Regions from separate parts of the Homo sapiens genome. Here region 1 is linked to region 2. The links come from fine-mapping of genetic effects on gene expression. A gene starts in region 2. The other region holds a variant in brackets. All regions are shown on one strand. Distances are between the middles of the regions.

Region 1 (5,371 bases), 41 kb after region 2:
GATGTAATTCCGCATCCCTCGCCCCACACCTCTCTGCTGCCCCATCATCTCCCTGGCTCCATGACCCTCCAGTCCTGCCTGGCTGATGTGTCCAGGTTGCCCAGACCTGCCTTGCCCTCTCCCTGCTCTGTGCTGCCTGGAATGGTCTTCTTCCTCCTCTCAGTCTTTGAGGGAGAGGCTGAACTATCCTAACAAGGCCAGCTCAGGGCCGGCTCTCTCCTGACGCTCTCCCTGGCCAGGCTCTCCCTCTAGCAGCCCCTGCTCTGCTACCTTCTCATAGTGAGGTCTTCCCCAGCTAGCATGGGAGCCCTTCCTTGGCAGGACCACCCATGTTTTATTTAGTCCTCTCTGAACCATAGCAGGGCATGGTACTCTGAAAATACACTGAGTAGGTACTCAATAATTTTGTATTTAATTGATGACCGAGTAGTGAGGCAGCTGGACCACTTGGACCTGTGTGATGTCTAGGAGCCCTGAGTGATTTCCCCTTTCTTCATCTACACCCTTCCACCCCTCAGGAGTCACTGGAGAAGTCGGGCTACCTGCTGAAAATGGGGAGCCAGGTGAAGACGTGGAAGAGGCGCTGGTTTGTCCTGAGACAGGGACAGATTATGTACTACAAGTCCCCGGTGAGAGTCTCCCCGCCCAGCACTGCAGTCAAAAGGTCTCCACATCACACCCTGGACTATGTCAGATGGGACGGAGGAGGGGGAATGTGGCCCAAGGCCAGAGGGCAAAGGTCTGGCAGGTGGGGAGAGGCAACCTCACTGGGCCCCTGAGGCTTTGAGCCACACTTGGGGACCTAAGCCTGGCCGTGAGTTTCAGAATGAAATAGGGAGGTTCTCAGAAGGACCCATGTTCCTGATTAAGGTTCCATTTAGCTATAACCAGAATCTAGAATAAGTCACCCATCATAACACAGCCAGAATGCTGGGAATCATGTTTCCCTTTGCTTATGACGTGGAGGAAGATCTGAGGGTAAATGAGGTGCTCCGGAAAGGCTCCACATTCAGTGGCTCTCCTCTCCAATACTTTCTTTACAGAGTGATGTCATCCGGAAACCTCAAGGCCAAGTGGATCTGAACTCCCGCTGCCAAATTGTTCGAGGGGAGGGTTCACAGACGTTTCAGGTGAGCACGCTCCTGGCTGCTAGTATTTTAAACAGAAGAGGTGCTGGGTTTGGATATGGCCGTGAGTGAGACAAAGATGGGGCCAAATGAGCATGAATGAAAGACTTCAGATCAACATTTGGACGTGATCCTAACTTGTGAGTACAAGAAAGGAAGATGAGACAGAATATGAGAGATGGAGTGAAGGAAGGAGAGACAGGGAGGAAAAGATGAGGAGGAAAAGAAAGGAGGGAGCACTAGGGCAGGCAGAAGGCCAGCCCCTTGGGTTCAGGGACAGGTGCCACCTCGGAGCCAGGTCCTGGTTACTCCATTCTCCCAGCGTGCTGCCCCACCCCCATATCTCGCCCTCCACAGCTCATCTCTGAGAAGAAAACCTACTACCTGACGGCCGATTCACCCAGCCTGCTGGAGGAGTGGATCCGAGTACTCCAGAGCCTGCTGAAGGTGCAGGCCACCGGGCCTCCAGCTCTGCTTCGGGGTGGCACCAAGCCCACCGTGAAGGGCTGGCTGACCAAGGTAGAGGGTGGGGCTGATAGGGCAGGAACATGTGCCTCCTGCGAATCAGGGGAGCCAGGATTGGGGTGCCGAGGGTGGTGGGTTCCCCCTTATACGGGGCTCCTTTCTCTGGGAGCCTCCTCACAGTGACTCGCTGGCCAGCCCTCAAACGTGGTCTGGCCACACAAGGTGATGGCGAGTGATTCCCCGGAAACAAATCAGGGTTGTTGGAACAACTATTCTCAAGAAAGAGAAGGGAAGGGACTATCTTGTATCCATTTTGAGGTCATTAGGGGCTGTCACCCACCCCCACCTTATACCTGCCTCAGTGTTAATAGTGGGAGGAAGAGGCCTGGGCGAGGTAGGTATGGCTCCTCAAAGACTTAAAGTATCCCAGGCCTGCCCTAAAGACATTTTTGTTAGGGCTCTTCTGGTTGAACAGAGCAGAGAAGCAGTTGTTAAACCCAAGAAAATGGAAGTTAACAAGGAAGTACATTAGCTAGACCAGAACACCAGCAGGAACCAAAGCGACTTGCACTCAGCAAGCTCAGGGCTGGCAGGCTCGCTGTGTGGCTCTGCTTCTCGTTCAATCTGTTTATGTCATTCTCCTTCGCCCGTGTGCAGCTTCTGTTCCTTCATGATGCATGGTTGCCCAAGGGCTTCAGCCTGCTGTTTTCCCTCCCTCCCTCCCGGCACCCTGACAACTGTGGCTTCTGCCACCTAGCAAGTTCTTCCTATTTTCATATGCCTGGAGGGGACATCTGATTGGCCTGGCTAATCGTTTCATGGCAGGTCATAGGTCACTGAATAGCCCATGATGGCTGGGGTGCCACAGGGTGTCATGGCACCCTCACTGTGAAAGGGGTGGTTCCATTAGTAGGGAGCCCAAATGGCATCTCCATCTCTACCATAGGTCAAATCTGTCTCCCTGTGGCTTCTATTTGCCAGTCCTGGATTTACTTCTAGAGTTACCTAGTTCTCATAATGCCAGTTCATTTCTGTCTTACAGGTAAAGCATGGCCACTCCAAGGTGGTCTGGTGCGCTCTTGTTGGGAAAATCTTCTACTACTATCGGAGCCATGAGGACAAGGTACTTCTCAGCCTCCTCACAATACCCACTCTCCTGCTTCCCCCGAAGCACATGACTGCCACTCTATGTCCTGATGAAAGTCCCTACCCCACGTAACCCCACAATAAATACAAAATCAGTTGGCTGGATCCCTCCAGAGTGTGAGATTCTGCCTGTCTGGGTCTCTGGTGCTTCTCCAAGCAAGCCTCATTCTGCTGCCAGCCTGGCTGGGATGCTATAGTCTCCACCTCCCCATCCTGTCATCGGTCCATATCCACGATTCCCAGCTTCACGGAGCCTATGTATTCAGAGAGAGGAGACTCCCTCATCCCCCACTGGCTCTCCCATTCATGGAAGACTGCTGTCCACAGCGACCCCTGGGCTGCCTGCCTGTGCGGGATGCGC[A/G]CATAGAGGAAGTAGATCGATCCTGTGACTCAGACGAGGACTATGAGGCTGGAGGAACCAGACGGTTGCTTTCCTCCCACTGCACCCTGGTGATCCACCCCACAGAGCACAGCCCCACCTACCTCCTCATTGGCACCAAGCATGAAAAGGTAAGGAAGAGGGCTGGGCCTCCAGGGCCAAGCTTGGACCTGTGATTCTGATCTTCCCTTCTCTCTTTCTCCTGAGCTTCCCAAAATTCAAATTTATTTCCTTTTGGACACTTTGGCAACTAATATTCTCTGAATGGGAATATTCCTTTATACTGAATTTATTCCCAGTGACCAACATTGCTTCACTGAGGTCATGTAATAGAATCGCAAATTTGGAAAGTTGGGTTCATGTTCACCTGATCCTCAGTCTTTCCAGGTAGCCCTGACTCATGCCAACCAAACTAGCTGAACCCCACATGGGCTTGGTCCCTTCAAGGAGTCCTCCTTGGAGCTCTTGCCTCCACTCTTCCCACCCCGTCCCCATCCGATGGCTTTCCGCCCTCTTCCAGGATACGTGGCTCTACCACCTCACAGTGGCTGCAGGTGGCAGCAGTGCCAAGGTGGGCACTGCCTATGAGCAGCTCATTGGAAAACTGATGGATGGTGAAGGAGATCCAGGTAAGGCAAGGGTGGCCACCACTGCTTGGGTTGGAGGGTAGTGGCTTGGTGACTATTGGTCAAGATCCCAAAGAAAGCAGTGTTGTACCCTGAAGCTGTTTTTAAAACATCTAAGCCACAGAGGGGAAGTTCCCATCCAAGCTCCAGGGCCCCTCTGTCTCCGGCTGAGATACTAAGGTGACCACTCTGCATCTGGGGGAGTTTATCTGGGAAGCAGGCTTTCCAGGGACCTGGGTAAATGTTTTACTTGGATCAAGCTGCCCCGTTGCTGGCTGGGCAGAGGGCTGAGGAAAGAAGGTAGCTGGTTAATCTATAGTTAGAGTTTGTAAATCAACAAGTGAAGCCTAAATTGGGATCGGACTAACCTGTTTGGAGTCTTTCTTTTGCTACTGATTATCAGGGCCCTGAGGAACTAATTAATGGCATATACCACACACACCCCTTTACTACTGCTCTGAGGCTTGTTTGTTTCTGACCAATTCATATGCCCCTCCATCCAGACTTGACACAGTAAGAAAGAGGCCTCCCCTGCACACATCCACCTGCACTCAGACACCCACAACCTTGCACACTCACCCCTACTGCCATTCCACGAGAAAGGCCATGCTTATATGAGGGTGCTCATTGCAGTGCCCACCTGTACACCCCACACTCTATGGATGATAAACCCAGCACAACCCAAGTGTTGACGGAAGATAAACCACTATCTTCCCCATAAATTAAAGATGGCGGTGAGTGGGAGATGAGTCCCCTCTCAGTAGTAACTGCCCTTGCTCTCTGGTTCCGTGCTTTGGGCAGATTCGCCGCTCTGGAGGCACCCCATGCTGTGCTACAGCAAAGACGGCCTATACGCCTCCCTCACCACCCTGCCCTCTGAGGCCTTGCAGACGGAGGCCCTCAAGCTCTTCAAGGTAAATTGGGGTGGCGGCCAGGCCCACCGCTGGGATACTTGCAATACTTGGGTGGAGAAGGCCTGTGCAGTTGGGGACAACCCACAGAGGGATCTGGAGAGGAAGGGAAGGAAACTTCCCAGGGTCCCTATCACTTCCTGGATGGCAGGAATGTAATCCTGTCACTGGGAGGGAAGCAGCTCTGGAACGTCATGCACAAGTCCTTGGGAAATGCCAATGAAAACTCTCCCTGGAGGAGCTCCCCTCCTCCTGTAGTTAAGCAGAAAAGGCGAGGTTTATGTTGCTTCTGGACTGAGAGATTCGGACCTATTTTAGCATGTCCTTTGTGAATGTTTGAGTTTTCTGTTTTTGTTTTTGTTTTTTTTAAGGAATTTGTCTTGTTTATGTAATGTAATGAGAACATTTTAAAAAGGAAACTTCTATCCCAAAGTAGCCCATAGCCCCTTTTAGTAAGCAGAGATGCCCTCCAACAGTAGCAGTGCTCCCTCTTAGAAAGGGCTGTCAGTAAACTCTAACCTCCCTGGAGCCCTTGGAAAATGGCCAAGCCGTTGAGTTCTCTGAACCCAGGGGATGCTGGTCTGCCTGTGCTCACTGCTGTTCCCTCCCAGTCCTGCCAGCTCTTCATCAACGTGCCGGTGGAAGCTGCCTCGGTGGACTACCATGTGTCCCTGGCCCAGACCGCACTGCAGGTCTGCCTGGTTCACCCCGAGCTGC
Region 2 (5,371 bases):
GAAAACAACAACAACAACAAAAGTTGTAACTTGCCCAAGTCACATAGCTAAAAAGTGGAAGAGACATAACTGAAACTCAAGCCTCCTAAATTCCTAATGTAGGGTTCAGTCCACCTCTACCACCCTCCCACAGACTGCCAAGGGGTCCTGCTCAGAGTTGGGCAATGGTGAGATGCACTCTATGGCCCCAAACTCATTGAAAGTAACAACTGAGCTGAAAAAAATGTGGAGTCTCTTCTGCCCTCTACAGAAGTAACCAGCTATAGGGGAGAGCATGCTCCTCCCATTCCACTCTCCATGGTGCGTCTCTTTTCACTATATAACAAAGTTATATTAAATGAGTTCTGGGCCGAGGTGCGGTGGCTCATCCCTGTAATCCCAGCACTTTGGGAGGCCGAGGCAGGAGGATTTCTTGAGTCCAGGAGTTTGAGACCCCACCTCTACTAAAAAAAAAAAAAAATTTTTTTTTTTTTTTTTGCTGGGTATAGTAGCATGTGCCTATAGTCCCAGCTGTTCATGAGGCTGAGATGGGAGGATTGCTTGAGCCCAGGAGTTCAAGTTACAGTGAGCTATGATTGTGCCACTGCAATCCAGCCTGGAGAACAGAACAAGAAGAACCTATGTCCAAAAAAAAAAAAAAAAAAAAAGTGAATGAATGAATTAATGTCTTCTTAGCAAAATCCAGAGAACGTGTTTTTGGGCTTCCTTATGCAACTTCTGGAATGTTGAAGTGGATAGCCTGAGCATTGTCCCACAAAATGGGGCTAATCTATCCCAATCCCCACGAGCTATAAAGCTGTTTGCAAGTTCAGCCATTGAAGTCCCATTGGCCCAGTTAAATTCTCACGTTTGGCCTCCTGCACTACCAGCTTTCCTTAGTGTCTGGGCTCTCAAAACTTCTACGTGAGAATGGCCTGGGGTACTTTAGTTAGAGATTCAGATTCAAACCCAGGGTGGGGGTGTTCTTCATGGTGCCTGGGATGAGTCTTCCAAGGACCATTTGGAGAAACAGGCGCTGATGGTATTTTGCTTCTGTTCAGTCCTTCACTGACAGAGAGCCTGCAGGGTTGAGGAAGAAGGCTCTGTTTTGAAGTGTGGATCCCTCCCTGCAATGGTCTCTATTTGCATCTTCTTTACTCCAGGCTCACCTAGCCAAATGTTGAGTTTTCCAACCCCTCTGGGTATGAGATTGCTTTGGGCGATCTGAGATCTGCAAATGTCTGAGAACGAGGAGCACATGGGCACGCTGATGACTGCCCTGCAAACTGCCTGGCAGCCAGGGTCCTCCTGGGCCCTCCTTTAAAATAACATATACATAAGCCGGCCTGGAGGCCCAGGCGGGAAGATCACTTGAGCTCCGGAGTTCGAGTCCAGCCTGGGCAACATAGCGAGACCAGAAAATAAGCAAGTAAGTTACTCTCTGGGCTGTCGTAACTTATTTTTTCTTTTTCTCCTGCAAATTGCAACTCAGAACATTTGGTCTGCCAGACTGAAATATGGACTTCTGTTCCAAATATCCAGACGTTACAGTTCCCACAGGTGGCCAGGAGAATGCTGGAACCTTTGGCGGAGACGGTCTGGTCTTGTCCCGCAGCCCGCGAGGGTCCCCCGCTATTTGGGGTCAAGCAGATCCCCGGGGCGCTCTGGCCACCCCTTGCGGCAGCTGGTGCGGCCTCCTCGGAGAGCTCCGGGCCGGCGCCCGGGACACCCCGCCGCCCTCCCTGCCGCCCCAGGGACGAGCCCAGCGGTGCGGAGAAGTGGGAGGCTGGAGCCTGCTGAGGTCATTTCCTGTGCCTCTCCGCGAGCTGCCTGGAGAGCTGAGCCCAGCGCTCTGCCTTTAAGGAGCGGGCGGGGAGCCGAGGGGAGGAGGGCGCCCGGCGGAGCGTTGAATGGGGCGCAGCAAGGCTCGGCCGGGCTTTGTGCAGCGAGCCCGCGGGCACCCCTCCCGCTCCAGCCTCGCCCCGCCCCGCAGCCCACGACCCCTGCTGCCGGGGAGGGGAGAACCGGCGGCAGCCCGGGACTCCGGCGAGAGCGACGCAAGGTCGGCTGCGGCGGCGGCCCGAGGGCGCCCGTGTGCCCAGTGCGCGGCGGGGACGGCCGCGAGCTCGCTGGAGGTGAGCGACCCGCGCTCCCGCCGCTGTGGTGGGCTGGGGCTGCGCCGCGGCGGAGGGCGTCAGGCTGCGCGCGGGGGACGGCCCCTCGGGCCCAGAGGACGATCCGGAGCAGGTGCCTCCCTACCTGGAAGCGAGCTCCCAGCGGCGGGGAGCGCTGGAGCGCGGGTCTGGCTTGGGAAGCCGGGCGCCCCAGGGGACTCGCGCCGCGAGGCCAGGAGGAGCCTCCCCCGGGAGTACCTGGACTTGGGGATCGGTCAGATCCAGCCGCTCCTGGGAAGGGCCCTCGGAGCGGACGTGCAGGCTGCCACCTTGCTATCGGTGCTCGCTCCCTTTCACCCCTTCCCGCACCCCTCCCCATCTCACCTCAGGTTATTTCTTCTGTGATTTCTGAGTGTTGTCTTTGGGACCCTATGGCTCAGGCTCGACTCCTAGGAGCAGGTCATTCAAGCAGAAAAGAAAACAGGTTGGGCGCCGAATGACACAGAGCATTGTGTCCTAGGAGTCTTAGCGAGGACTCGGTCACCAGGAACCAGGGGCCTTAGTGGGGGTGGCAGAGGCGGTGAAGAGCCTCATCTGGAAGGAAACTCCTCTCCTTGTGGGATTTCTGCTTGCCAGGATATCTCCTCCATAGCTTTTACTATGAATCCACCTCATAAAACTCTTCCAAGACAGAGCCTTGGTTCAGGTAAAACACTTGAAAGACCATTTAAAAAATTCAGTGGGAGAATTATCAGTTCCTTCATCAAACTGTTTGGACTGTCTTCTATGTGACAGACACTGTGTATAGGGCTAGTACCATCACTGAACGCTTTATAGAACATCGGTATTAGTGTTTCTGCATATTATTGGCCCCATTTTTCCAAAGGAGGAAGCTGGGACTCTGAAAAGTTGTGATTTAGGCCAGTTGCAGTGGCTTATGCCTGTAATCCCAGCACTTTGGGAAGCCAAGGCAGGAGGAGAGCTTGATGCCAGGAGTTCAAGACCAGCCTGGGCAACATAGGGAGACCCTGTGTCTACAAATAAATAAAAATTTAAAAATTAGCTGGGTGTGGTGGTGTGGGCCTGTAGTCCCAGCTAACTTGGGAGGCTGATGATCCTGTCTGTTAAAAAAAAAATTGTTGTGATATGCCCATGGTCACATAGCTAAAAAGTGGAAGAGCCATAACTGAAACCCAAGCCTCCTAAATTCCTAACGTATGGTTCAGTCCACTTCTACCACCTTCCCATAGACTGCTGAGGGGGCCTGCTCAGAGTTGGGCAATTGTGGGGTGCAGCCTGTGGCCCCAAACTCATTGAAACTAACAACTAAGCTGAAAAAATGTGGAGCCTCTTCTGCCCTCTTCAGAAGTCACCAGCTGTAGGGGAGAGCATGTTCCTCCCATTCCTGATAGAAAAAAAAAAATCCAAAGAAATGTCTGGCAATTTAAAGTGTACATCATTTACCCCTAAATTCCATTTTCTGGGACTTTATCCTTCAGATATACTCTGATGTATATGAAATGGTGTACATCATTGAATATTCATTGCAGCATTGTTTAGCAAAAGGTTGGAAACAATCTAGATGTCCATCAATAAGGAACCCTTCAATAAGATCATGTAAAAGCCACACGATAGGATACATTAAAGCTGTTATAAAGCGTGCAGAGAAAATGTGGCAGATATATACTTTGATGTAGGAATATCTCTAAGTTATATTGTTGAGTACAGTGTGTATGGTGGGCCACGATTTTTGGGTGGGTGTGTGAATGCCACATACATATGAATGCCTGTAGATGCTCTGAATATCTCTGAGAGAACACACAGAAACCTGTAACAGTGGTTGCCGCTGGGGAGAACTATGGCTGAAGTACAGGCATGGGAAGAAGCCTTACTTTGCACTATATACCCTTTTGTTCAATGTTCTAAAATAACTTTAAAAATCATATGACCTCCTCTCCAGATCTCCAGAGTTAGATCTGGTAGTGAGCACATCTTTTTTTTTTTTTTTTTTTTTTTTTTTTGAGCCAGAGTCTCGCTCTGTTGCCCAGGCTGGAGTGCAGTGGTGCAATCTCAGCTCACTACAACCTCCGCCTCCAGGGTTCAAGCAGTTCACCTGCCTTAGCCTCCCAAGTGGCTGGGATTAACAGGCATGCGCCACCACACCTGGCTAATTTTTGTATTTTTAGTAGAGACAGGGTTTCACCATGTTGGCCAGTCTGGTTGAACTCCTGACCTCAGGTAAGCCGCCTGCCTCCACCTCCCAAAGTGCTGGGATTACAGGCTTGAGCCACCGTGCCCAGCCTCGTGAGCACATCTTTGGGCCACATCTCCTTTTATGTTCTAGATGCTATTGGTTTGCCTTTGTTTGCTGATTACAACAATAACAGTCATTTATTGAGTACTTAGTGTGCACCAGGCTTTTGTAATATCTCCTTTAATTCTCAAAAAGCCCTGCATGATGTGATATATGAAATGGCCATTTTGAAGGTTGGAAAATGGTTAAATGACGGTTTCATATGGTTCAACCAAATATTATTGTCCTGATTTTCAAATATTACTGCCCTCAATTTCAGAATGGAACTGAGTCTCAAAGAAGTTAAGCAAATGGCTTAAGGCCACAGGATTATTTAGTGCCTGAGCTCGTATTCAAACCCAGGCCTGTCAGTGCCAGAGCATGGGATCTTAGGTACTAAGCTGTTTCTCTTTGCTGTTTTTGTTCTCAAGGAATGTTGTACCTGGTTGTCCTGACCACTTCTTTTGGTATTGAGGTTCCTGCGGCCTAGGACATGCTCACCTTCTCTGTCTCCCCGGACATTGTGTGGAATGTCATGTAGGCACCCAGCAGTGGCCAAATGGATGTTGTTAGCTTGATCAGATGACAGTGCTGAGATCAGAGGAAGTTGTCCCTGTGTACACTCACACCCTTCTCCCAGCCTCATCCCCAGAAACGGGACACAAAGCTGTTTCTCTCCCACAATTGACAAGTAGTCAGCCACGTCTGGCAGAGCACTTTTAGAAGATGGTGGTAGCCCCTCACTAGCAAGTGGAAGTCATACAGATACTCACACTCAGGGAATGAACCATACTGAGGCAATATGAGAGAGCCCAGTGGAAACTGTGCATATAACAGAAGCCCCGTTGCCTTCCAATGCCTCCTGCATCCTCCACAAGATAGAGGCAATGAGCTATTTTGAGGCCTGTGGTGACCTCTGACCTCTTTCTTTTAGGGTCCTGTATTGATTAGCTACCTTTGTAGGGAGCTACCAGGATATTCAGGC

Which allele goes with the higher level. Alleles are on the strand shown, and positions count from the first base shown. SD is a standard deviation of normalised expression in the study named.
With allele A in place of G in region 1, the expression in transverse colon of the gene that starts at base 2,006 in region 2 is lower (small effect, 0.11 SD a copy in GTEx).

Evidence for each region. PIP is the estimated chance that this variant, and not a neighbour inherited with it, causes the effect.
Region 1: its variant is fine-mapped to the expression of PLEKHH1 in transverse colon (GTEx, PIP 0.90).

What each region holds. Positions count from the first base shown.
Region 1 is chr14:67,572,758-67,578,128 of GRCh38, forward strand. PLEKHH1 (pleckstrin homology, MyTH4 and FERM domain containing H1) reads left to right here. Exons shown (of 29, transcript NM_020715.3): 12 at 519-629; 13 at 1,044-1,130; 14 at 1,485-1,646; 15 at 2,635-2,715; 16 at 3,066-3,248; 17 at 3,638-3,746; 18 at 4,545-4,657; 19 at 5,266-5,371. It also overlaps a transcript of GPHN not described here. Among named protein-coding and RNA genes, the nearest start is that of PIGH, 25 kb to the right of the region's middle. The variant A/G (reference allele first, on the strand shown) is at 3,100.
Region 2 is chr14:67,531,285-67,536,655 of GRCh38, forward strand. It overlaps PLEKHH1 (pleckstrin homology, MyTH4 and FERM domain containing H1), which reads left to right and starts at 2,006. Exons shown (of 29, transcript NM_020715.3): 1 at 2,006-2,114. It also overlaps a transcript of GPHN not described here and a transcript of TMEM229B not described here. RefSeq lists a silencer at 1,630-2,099.